Linked DNA regions of Homo sapiens: region 2 is linked to region 1. Evidence: fine-mapped expression QTL. A gene starts in region 1. The other region holds a variant in brackets. All regions are shown on one strand. Distances are from middle to middle.

Region 1 (5,386 bases):
TCCATTGCCACCCTCTCCTTTTTATTCGGGTATGCACTTCTCAAAGAATGCAATCGGGAAGAGTTAGGAACCAGTCCTGCAGAGCCTAAGAGGCTGGGAATGGTGATTCTCCCCTCCACCTCCAGCATTTAGGTGTGAGCACATGCTTAGTTTGGATTAATGACAGGTGAGAAGTCTCCTGGAAGCTTCCAAGAACGATTTCCCGACTCTGGAAAAGAGAATCTCTGTGACCTTTGGGCACTGTTGGGATTGCCCATAATAAATGGAGTTGTTCCAGTCATCCTGGGGCCATGGGTGGAGCAGCCCCAGGGGACAAAGCTGCCATACTGGGAATGGCAGGGGGAATAACGGGAACAGGCCAGGGCCTTCCCAGACACAACTGTGTTCCTGAATTCACCAACTAGAGCCTCCTGACCTTGGAACTTCTTGCCTTGTGAAACAGTAAGTTTCCTTATAATTTAAGCCATTCTAAATTGGGTTAATTATTAATTGCAGCCTCCCACATCTAAATTATAACCCCATATTTTTTTCTCTCATTTTCCTTCACAGTATTTCTCCCACATATGCTTACTTTTGTGTTTACTTATTTAATGTCTGTTTCTCTCACTGGATTGTACACTCTAAGTTGGCAGAGATCACAAGTTAATTTTGTTCACCATTGAATTCTAAGTATTTAGCACTGGGCCTGAGATGCAGGAGCTGCTGAAAGCACATTTGTTGAAAGACTGAATTAAAAGCTCAAAAAGTGGTCACTTTCCTTCTCTTCCTCCGTTTCCTTGTTCAGCATGGTAGAGTTGTAGATTTGACAGAGCATAGGATTGCTGGGAGGGAACTTAGGTTCCCCCTCAAACTCTTCCTAGCTGGGTGACCCTGGGCAACAGCCTGCACTGCATCGACAGCTTTCAAGCTTTTACCTCAATGAACGGTAAGAAAGTACATATGACCCAGTTGACCCAGTGTGCGTGCATACTCTGCTATTTTTTATTCTATTTGGTATCATTTTAAAAATGCTGGCTTTGACCCAGTACATCAATTTTATAATCCATTAATTAGCAACCCATTGTTTAAAAAAGCCCAGGACTCAATGAAATGTAAGGACTTTGCAGCATTATTCACAATAGCAAAATCATGGAGTCAACCTACGTGTCCATTAAGGGGTGATTGGATTTATAAATGTGGTTTTATATTATATATATACACATATATATATATATATATATATACAAAATATATACACACACACTATGGTGGTATACACACACATACACTGTGTACCTATCACCTGAAAAACTGGGAAAATTTTTTTTTGATTCAGGGGTACTACACACACACACACACACACACACACACACACACACACACAATGGAATACTACCCAGCCACAAAAACAATGAAATCATATCTTTTGCAGCAACATGGATGGAACTAGAGGCCATTATCCTAAGTGAAATTACTCAGAAACAAAGTCAAAAACTGCAGAATCTCTTATAAGTGGCAGCTAAACAATGGGCAGGCATGAGTATCCAGAATGGAATAACAGACACTGGGGACTCCAATAGGTGGGAGGGTGGGAGGTGGGTGAGGTAGGAATTACAACTTATTAGGTACAGTGCACATTATTAGGGTAATAGGTGCGCTAAAAGCCCAGACCTCACCACTATGTGTTATGTCCGTGTAATGCGACTGCACTTGTACCCCTGAATCTGAAATTTTTTTTTAAAGTGAAGACTTTGAAAATCTGTTTTTCTCCTTTTTGTCATTAAATCGCTAATAAAAATTCAGCCCATCAACTTAAAAGTCCATTATTACAGTGACATACAATTACTTATTTTCTCTTTTCTTGTGGAATTCTTCCTCACTCCTTTCTCCTCTAATTTTTTTTTTTTTGAGGTCTTTATAAAATGTACAGACTCTGGGATAGCTTCATGAAAAGGTACTTTGTGTACTTTCGCGATTTTCCTCCAGTTAGCACAAAAACAAACAGGACTATATTCCTCCTCCTCTGAAACTTAATGGTCTCATTCAACATATTTTACATGGGCCTCATTTTTAATATAAGTTTATGTATGTAACAGTGTATACAAATGTTACATGAGCCCCACTGCCACCATGTGGTTTAAAAACCCAAGAGAGTTGGTTGTAACATTCTCTAGATGCACAGTGAGGAATAGACCCTCACTATACTTTCCATCTCTCAACACAGAAACTGCCCTTGTCCTCCGTGAATTTGCTGGTGAAATTCCTCTGGGGGCAGAAGGAAAGGGAAAAAGCCACATGGAGATCTCACAACTCCAGAGCACAGCAAATAATGCGGTGGGGTGTACATATATATTTAGGAAACCATATTGCACCCTTCAGGAAAAAAAAATGTACTCAAAAGGTGACGAGAGAGCATTATCTTCTTGGGTGATCAAGAAAGCTCCCTTCCCAAAGACCTGCAGATTCGGAAGGTATAATCTCTGTCCCTCGAAACTCGATTCAACCCCTGCCCCCAGCATCACGTGAACTGGCAAACTAGATGTAAGTTATGGCCCCAGAGTCCGGGAGGGGCGCGTCGACGAGCTGCTTCGGGGTCACATGTCTTCGTAGAAAGGCATTGGTGTGACAGAGGAGGGCATGTCCAGGGTACGTGCGCCTGTTTGAGCTCTGGGAGGGAAGGCGAAGTGGAGAGAGCCTGCAGTGAAAACAGACTGGAAGGATGGAGGAAAGGGAGGGGAAGGAAAAAATGAACACCTCCCTGAACTTTCCTCTCCCCTCGTCCCACACACTTGAAATAGAAATAATAACATGAACAAAAATGCTTACAACCACGATGTTATCGCCCTACTTAAGTTGCCTCACTATGGAGGGTATGGGGTATAAAGTGCAGACTGCGGCTGTGTCGGGAGTAAAGGTTCGGGCTAGTGTGCGTGCGGGCGCGGGTGACCCCACCTTTAGGGAAGCCGGCGCCCAACTATCCAGGCAGTAGCCCCGGCTGACCCCCTCCCTCCTCCTTCCCTCCTCTCTTCCCTCCCTCCCTGCGTGTCTCCTCTGCACCGGCCCCCGCCGCGGAGCCAGGCGGCAGCACCGACGCCGCCGCAGCTCCTGCCCGCATCGCGCTAACCCGCGCCCCCGGCTCACACGTAGCCGGAGCGACTGAGCCGGCAGCCCCGGGCCCACGCTGCGCACCGTGTGCACGGCGGGGCTGGCTGAGCTGACCTGCGCTGGGCTCCGGCGCCGCAGGCGGCTGGGGAGGGCGGCGTGGGAGAGGACGCTGAGACGCAGGGGCGGCCGCGCCGAGGTGACAAGCTGCGCACCTGGAAAGTTACCCGGCTGTCTGGTGAGGTTCGTGGGCCGGGGGTCTTGGGCGCCGGGGTGTGAGGGCGCGCGGGGAGGGACGGGGTCGGGGTGCGCGCGTGTGCATGCTGTGAATGCGTTGCGCGATGTGCGCCTCTATTCCACACCCAGCCGGTCTCTTGCTTGTGCTGTTCGAGTGTGGACGTGTGTACGCGTTGCATTCGCTCGGTGTGGCAGCGTTTCGTGAGCTCCTGGAGGCAGGGAAAGGCTACTTGTGTTTAGAGGTTCTGTTGAGGGCGGGAGGGGCTCAGCCCCAGTGGGGAGTCCTCAGGGTTCTCTAGGTTTAGCGAGGAGAAGCGGTGGAGGCTGTTGCTCCGAGCTAGGGGCTTGGCGGTGCTGTCAGGGCTTGCGCTCCCGGCTTTGCTTCGTCGAGCTCTGGGTAGTTGCTAGGGGACAGTCCTCAGGCAAGGACTTTTAGGAGTCCTGGTAAACTTGTGTGGGTGTCCTTTTGTCACTCTGGGCACCGTGAGGCGCTTTCATATTTCTGTATTTCTCGGTGATGAAGAAACAAGAGCAAACAAAGCCCAGAAACCAGCCACTTTGGGGATGAGAAAAAAAGAAATAGGTTCAGTTCTGAGAAGAACTACGGTGCAACTACGAAGCAGCTGAGGCCAGAGCTGACAATAAAAGCAACGCATGCAGAATTAGTAGGTAGGAAGGGTGACGCTGGGACAAATGCCTTGATTTCCTGATCTTCATCTTGTTCCCCAAGTTCCCAGGGGCTTTTTCCTTCTTCTTCTTCTCCTTCTTTTTTTTTTTTTTTTTAAGGAAGAGAGCAACATACACCTGCCCCCACCCCACCACACCCCCATATTTAGAGTTTCTTAGAAATTGTCTCTTTTCTTTGCAAGTTTCTATTTAACTCATGAAGAAGGCGATCATCCCACATAACATACACTAGCTGTTTTCAGTACTCCTGTTTAGTTTTGCACAGGAGGGTATGAGCTAATATGGTAGAGAATTCTCTATGGAGAATTAGAGTGCATCCTCTCCGTTGGAACGCTGTATGACTAAGAATAAACGACCTGAAAAGATGATGCCCAGGGATCTTTCTCTTTTACGTGAAATCCTTAACTCCAGTTCTATGAAGTCATTACAAGTGAGGCTAATGAGAATTCACCTCACAGTGAAGGCATATGTTGCCTGGCTGTTGCCCAAGTCCTGTGATCCCTTATTGTCTTGCTTCCTCTAGGCTATTTTTCCTATGAATTATCTCTTCTTCTCCCATGTTTTCGTTTTTCATATCTCCTGTGCTTCATTATCCTGGAGCTACAGACATTTTCAAATTTTCATTATTTTAAAAATCCCTCACATGAATCATGATATCGTCTTGCAGGCTCTACTCTTAGTGTCAGCTCTTTCCATGGTCCCTTGTAGTTGAGTGTCTATCCCCACTCTTTGACAAATCAGATTCAGCACTTTTCTCTCTGATCTCATTTGCTGTGACAGGCCTGTGGGATGTGAGGTACAGCCTGCTCACCTCTTAAGGATCTTATCTGCATGGCCTTTCTGATGCTTCTCCTAAATCTCTTATTGGTACACGTGTTCCTTCTCCTTTGTGGTTTGCTTCTCCTCCTCTTCTCCCACAAATAATATCCACAGATATTACCTATATGTTCATAGGTAACAATAGAGACATTCCTTTCTTACCTCCCTTAGTGATCTCATCTACAAATGGTACTTCAAGTCTTCTATGGAGCAATCTCTTCCCTTGAGTTTTCTTTTTTGCTTCTACCTGCTAGACATTTGCATCATGATGACCCACAAGCATCTCAAACTCAATATATGTAAATCCAGACTCATTACTGTCTTTTCAAAGCATGCTCATTCTCCTGACTTCTGTCAGTGCCACAGTGTCTAGCCCATACACGGTGCCCTATGTGTTCTTTTTGAATGACTGAATGAATGAAGAGTAGATAGTAATACTTTCCTTCAAGCCTCCTAAGATCAAAACATTGAAATCATTTTGATTGCCCTCCCATGCACATCCATTTAATTACTACATTAGAGATGCTATCCTGCAGTGTTCCTCCTACTCACCCTCTTCTAA
Region 2 (5,386 bases), 51 kb after region 1:
GAAGTGGTAAGAAATTTTGAAGTAAAAAATAAATTTCATTAGAAGATATTAGAATGTACTTATATTATTAACACCATAAATAAATAAAAAGATGTCAGAGCACCAGTCTACAGAGACCAAGAGCCTTTTTCTATGGTGAAAAATCTTAAGCCAACTCATGCTGTGTTAAGGGGTGGAGAAAGGTTTAAACTCTTCAGATGTATAAAAGGAAATTGGATTTGCATGTGTAAAGTGAAATTTGATTTACATATTTTAATCTTTTTAGTATATCTTATAAAACAAACCTGCCTTACTCAAGAAGCATTTGATTTTCTACAATTAACATCACAATCCCCTACAGAGTTTTCATAGTATAAAGGAGTCACTGATGTATAATTAAGAAATGGAGCAGAGAAAGGGTATGTTGGTCCTTTTGGTGGCAAGCCTCTGAGTCAGGCTGTGAAACACTTTCTACTTGAACACTCTAGGCCACAAAAAACACATTTTAAAAACTGTATTTAAGAAGCACTTTATCTATTTTAACATCTAGGGGGAAACGGCATATTGGAATGTGTTCAAAAACTCATTTTAGGCATCACCCAGATGGTTGGTTCTAGTCCAAGACGAGTCAAGTCTTTTCATGAATAATGCTTTTACGACATGTACCTTGGATTCTAACGATATGCATTTTGTGAAAACGTCTTCAGATTTCAGAGAATTAAAATTCAAAGCAAATACGTTCTTTAACTTTTTGGGGGGTCAATTTCATTGAAACCCAGATGGCTTTATGGAATTTAAAGGAGGTAAGGAATAGTAAAGGAGTCACATATAGAATTTAAGCTTTTATAAAGCTGTTCTCAGTGGGAGGAAAAAAAACCCCCAAAACCCTGCAAGGCTGATTGTTGACAGATTCATGCCTCTGTCAATCACAATATACAATGTAACTAATATCTGTCAAGCAGGGAGTAGGGACCATTTTATCCTTAAGTGTAAGTGACACCAGCAGTGTTTCCATTTACAATTCATGCAACCCATCCAGCAGTTTATCAAGGACAGACCATGATGACACAGTGCCTGGCCGTGTGGCCCCAGGGGGTTCAGATATGAAGTCATTTTCAAGAAGATTGCTTAGCCTGCATCTCTGGAGAGTCTCCCATTGTAACATAACCCAGTCACAGATGTTACAAATTAATAATTCATCCTAATTTCTAAGGGTGTTTTTTTTTTTACTTAAAGCTGGAGAGGCCCTAGTTTTTTTTGTTAACCAAGGAAATCTGTTTTTAATATAATACTAATAGAGTAGATTCACCAGAGGGGATTTCTATGTTGACAGCAAATATGAAAATTTAGTATCATTAAAAATAAATGGTAAATTAGACGTATTTATAGCAGCCACAGGCAATTGCTACAGAATATATAGATGGGGGCTCAAATCCAGTAATAATTAACACACAATTCAAATTTGAAAAACTCATCTTTTCAAACACCCTGGAAAGGATTTGCTGTATCTCAGCATTTGCAGACAGCAGCACAGTTTATAAAGGACTCTTTATTCATACCTGGCAAACAAATGTGTCTCTGTGATGTGTGAAAATTCTCAAATGTGAAAGTGATTAACGAGAGTAATGGGATCTATTTAGCGCTAAGAAATGCATGTGATTTACCAGCATAGCTTGGACTAATGACCCATCAACTTGGTCCTGACAACAGCCAATCACTACTGCATCATTTTTGACAGTGTCCAGAGTTCTAGGACCAGCTGTCCCACAAACTGTCCCCATAATCTTTGAAAAAAACAGGCTAAATCTGTCATGCAGTTTAGGAGTTGATTTGGGAGTTTTGCATGTAGCAGGGGGTAAGGAAGGGAGAATCAGAATTTCCCATCACCAAGTAATTGATCTGATGTATTTGTTGAAACTTAGACGGTTGAACTCCTAGAACAAATGGCCCTGATTGTGCAATGTTCCAATGGCATTTCTTGCTTTAGCTTAAATCACTCAGAACATTTATAGAGGCAGCCATTGCCTTTAAGCCTCTTCTTGTGTTCTGATAAGAAAACGAGGGTGGGAATAACACCAACATACTAGAGTTCATTAAGAGTTAACTAATGAGAACTGTAAAGCATGATATAGATTCAGAACGGAGTGTACAGATTAACGACAATGAAAATAATAATATGACTTACGTACCTGGCAGTTATGCAGTATGGAAGGTAAGAGTGGAAGTAGTTTCTGCCCCCACACATGGTGATGAATCCACTAAGCATGAGATTTGACTGTGACATCCTCCTGAACTACAAACATTGTGATTCATCATAAAGTCACCTGTTAGTCACAGTGCTTTGGTATTTGATCCAGTGGCCTTTTGCACTGTGACTCTAACCTGCCATCTTTCACAAAGCTGAGGTGTTTGAGGCTGGGATGAGGGTGTAGTGTGGAGCACCTTTGCCCTTAGTCAGATTGCCTGTGGTGCCGATGAGAAGGCATATTCCCAGGCACCACCCCACACTTACTGAATCGGAAACTCAAGTTGGGGCCCCCAGATCCACACCTAACACTCTAATGGTGGGATTTTTATGCTTATTAAAGTCTAAGAAGCACTGGTTTAGTTATGAATGTTTAGAGTTTGCAACCGTCTGCCTCTTTCTTTGGGAATTTTCCATTTTAATCACTTTTTTCAAGTCTAGTCTTTCTTGTAGTCCTTACCAACACT[C/T]GCATAAACCAGGATTTTTTTTTTTCCTGTCATCCTAACGGTTAAATCCAGAGCCATAAGAAAGTTGAAATAATTGTAGATTTCGCTACAGTTTATGAACCATTGAGCTAAAGGTGGGGCAGCCAGGTGTTGTACAAAGTTCACTAGTCCAAAGTCTGGAGATTAGGGCTTGTGGTTCTGCCTCTGTCACTCTACCAGCTGTCAATGAATTGTGGTAGGCTTTAGCATATCATCTCTTCATCTACAAAATAATGGAGTGGTGGGCCATATCTCTATGAGCTCTTTCAACATTTAAATCATAGAATTCTATATGATTGGCTCACCCAAATAGAAATAACTTCTGTTGTTTTTCATTTTGTAGTATCTGGTTCTTTGAAAATAACCAATCAGGTGCTACATGCCCGAATGGCTGACTGGGCCCACCTGATCCAGGTGTGCTTGCCTTAAAACTTCTGAGGTGTTCTAAACTCTTGTACTTGGAAAACAAAGATTAACTAGTAACAACATAAATAACTAACTGTAAACAATTTTTTAACCGACACACTTGGTACATAGTCACATAATGCACAGAGGTGTGTGTGTGTGTGTGTGTGTGTGTGTGTGTGTGTGTGTACTATACATCTGGTTGTATATCATCAGTACTTCCAATACTTCTTTTTAATGAGGATTTCATTTGCTTTTTGCAAGATACTTATAAAGAAGATTTGTAGCTGCAAATTAAAGGCTCTAAGGAAGTCATTGCCTTCCTTCATTTTCTTTGTCCTCTGTCACTTTGGAATTTCCTTCTGGTTTTATATATTGTATTTACAGGTACTCAGGCTCTAGCATTTTGCTAGATTATCACAGAATGAACATTTTGTTTACAGTAAAAATGGGCTACAACTCATTACCAGGTTATGAAACCAATTTAGAGGAACATTTAAAAAATCAGAATAGTAAGTATAAGTATTATTTTGAAAAATGTTTCAATTTTGTATAAATATGTGTACCTGCTCTTGTGTGTGTATTGGGAGTACATGCAGAATGTATTTCTTACTGTTGGTCAGAATTAAAACATGCTTGAAAACCATTGCTCTGCAGGATAGGGTCTATGGCTTCTTGGTCCTCTAAGGGACACCTTTGCAATGTAACCACAAGGACAATAACCACACTATTTGCATTTCTCTTTTTGGTCTCAGTGACCACCCTGGCTTGACTGGTTGCACTCCCCAGTTGGCAAACACTGGGCAGTCTAGCATCACAGTCAGTACTTACCACTATATATTTTTGGTCTGACCTATTTCCACAGCCTTTTCTGATCTATGAAGTTACTGTCAACACACTGGGAGGTATTATTTATCTTCCTCCCATGGTTTTGGGTGACAAAGAATCATCCGTGGAGAAAAATACCACTAGGAAGGTTGTCCCTTAAAAAATAACAAAGGTCTTCCTCAGTATCCCCTTTCAAGCTTTTCCCCCTTTGAAGTTATTCGGTTGTTAGGAATTAAAGCCACACCTCTGCACACATCAAAGGCTTCATAATAACTGAAGAACAGCCTAACAGCACTTCAGAAATTCTCTGTGTTTCTTCTGCTCCATGTGGGTAATGAGGACTGAAATTGTGATGGGAACAGGAGAGCTTGAAGAGCAGACTGTCTGAAATAGGAACTTCGAACACAATCCCCGCAGCTATAGCAAAGAACATTGAATGTTAGCTATGTGGTGAAGACAGCTGGACTGTGTGGGGGATCAGGATCATCCTATAAGGGTCATAGTCATCTCCACTGCAAAATCACACTGCATATAGTCAAGGTTTGTGATAAAGCTAAAATTGGGAAGGGATGAAGGGTTTGAGTAAGCAAACTATGAGGCAAAGACACGCCAAATATCATTGCTTAAATAAAACAGAAGTTTGTCACTCGTTAACATAACTGTCCAGGAAAGATAGTCCCAATTGGCTCCACACAGTCATTTGGGAATCCAAGCTGATGTCTACTCTGCCATTTTCAACATGTGGTTTTCCAGGTTTGTGTGGGCCATGCCATTATAATTGGGGAAAAAGTATAAAGACACATGCATGAAAGCATGCATGGGCTTGGTGTGGAATTGTCACAGATCACTTCCACTCAGATTATTTTAGATAAAAGTTCATCACATGGCCATAGCTAACAGCAGGAAGGCTGGCAAGTGTAACTTACCTGGACAATCATATATTCCTCTGGAAGACTTTCGTGACCAGCTTACAGCCTCTTTCGTAAGATTAACAGTCACCGGGTACCTGGTGTGCACTAAACATTCCATCAGGTACTTTAGATACACCGTCTTAACTAGTCCTCAAACAACATTAGGTGTAGTAGTAAATATAATCTTAATTTTACAGAAAATGAAACAGAGGTCCAGAAGATGTAGGAAACAGCTGAGCAAATCATTATCATCCTCCTTCTTAGCATGGCAACAATTAATTGTGCATTTACTATATTTTAGATGCTCCTACTATTTCAGGCAACATTGCCTTTCATTGGCTTATTGTGGTAGGCAGAATGGTCCCCTGCCCCACCCCCCCTTCCAGATATCCAGATTCTAATCCCTGGAATGTATGAATATGTTATATTACATGGCAAAAGGGACTTTAATGGTATGCTTAAAGTTTGGGACTTTAAAATAGATTATCATTAATTGGCTAGGTGAATGAACTATTGAATATAGTTGCATGAGC

The links. PIP is the estimated chance that this variant, and not a neighbour inherited with it, causes the effect. A credible set is the group of variants that fine-mapping cannot tell apart.
Region 2: its variant is the best candidate, but not a certain one, in a credible set for the expression of PRKG2 in whole blood (TOPMed, PIP 0.82).

Annotation. Positions count from the first base shown.
Region 1 is chr4:81,212,869-81,218,254 of GRCh38, reverse strand. It overlaps PRKG2 (protein kinase cGMP-dependent 2), which reads left to right and starts at 3,033. Exons shown (of 19, transcript NM_006259.3): 1 at 3,033-3,319. It overlaps LOC124900726 (a long non-coding RNA gene), which reads right to left and starts at 3,369. Exons shown (of 2, transcript XR_007058162.1): 1 at 3,297-3,369; 2 at 2,031-2,690. RefSeq lists enhancers at 3,000-3,500, 3,501-4,001.
Region 2 is chr4:81,161,781-81,167,166 of GRCh38, reverse strand. It overlaps PRKG2 (protein kinase cGMP-dependent 2), which reads left to right. Exons shown (of 19, transcript NM_006259.3): 6 at 1-6. PRKG2-AS1 (PRKG2 antisense RNA 1) reads right to left here and starts at 2,227. Exons shown (of 5, transcript NR_125908.1): 1 at 2,169-2,227. RefSeq lists an enhancer at 1,857-3,056. The variant C/T (reference allele first, on the strand shown) is at 2,692.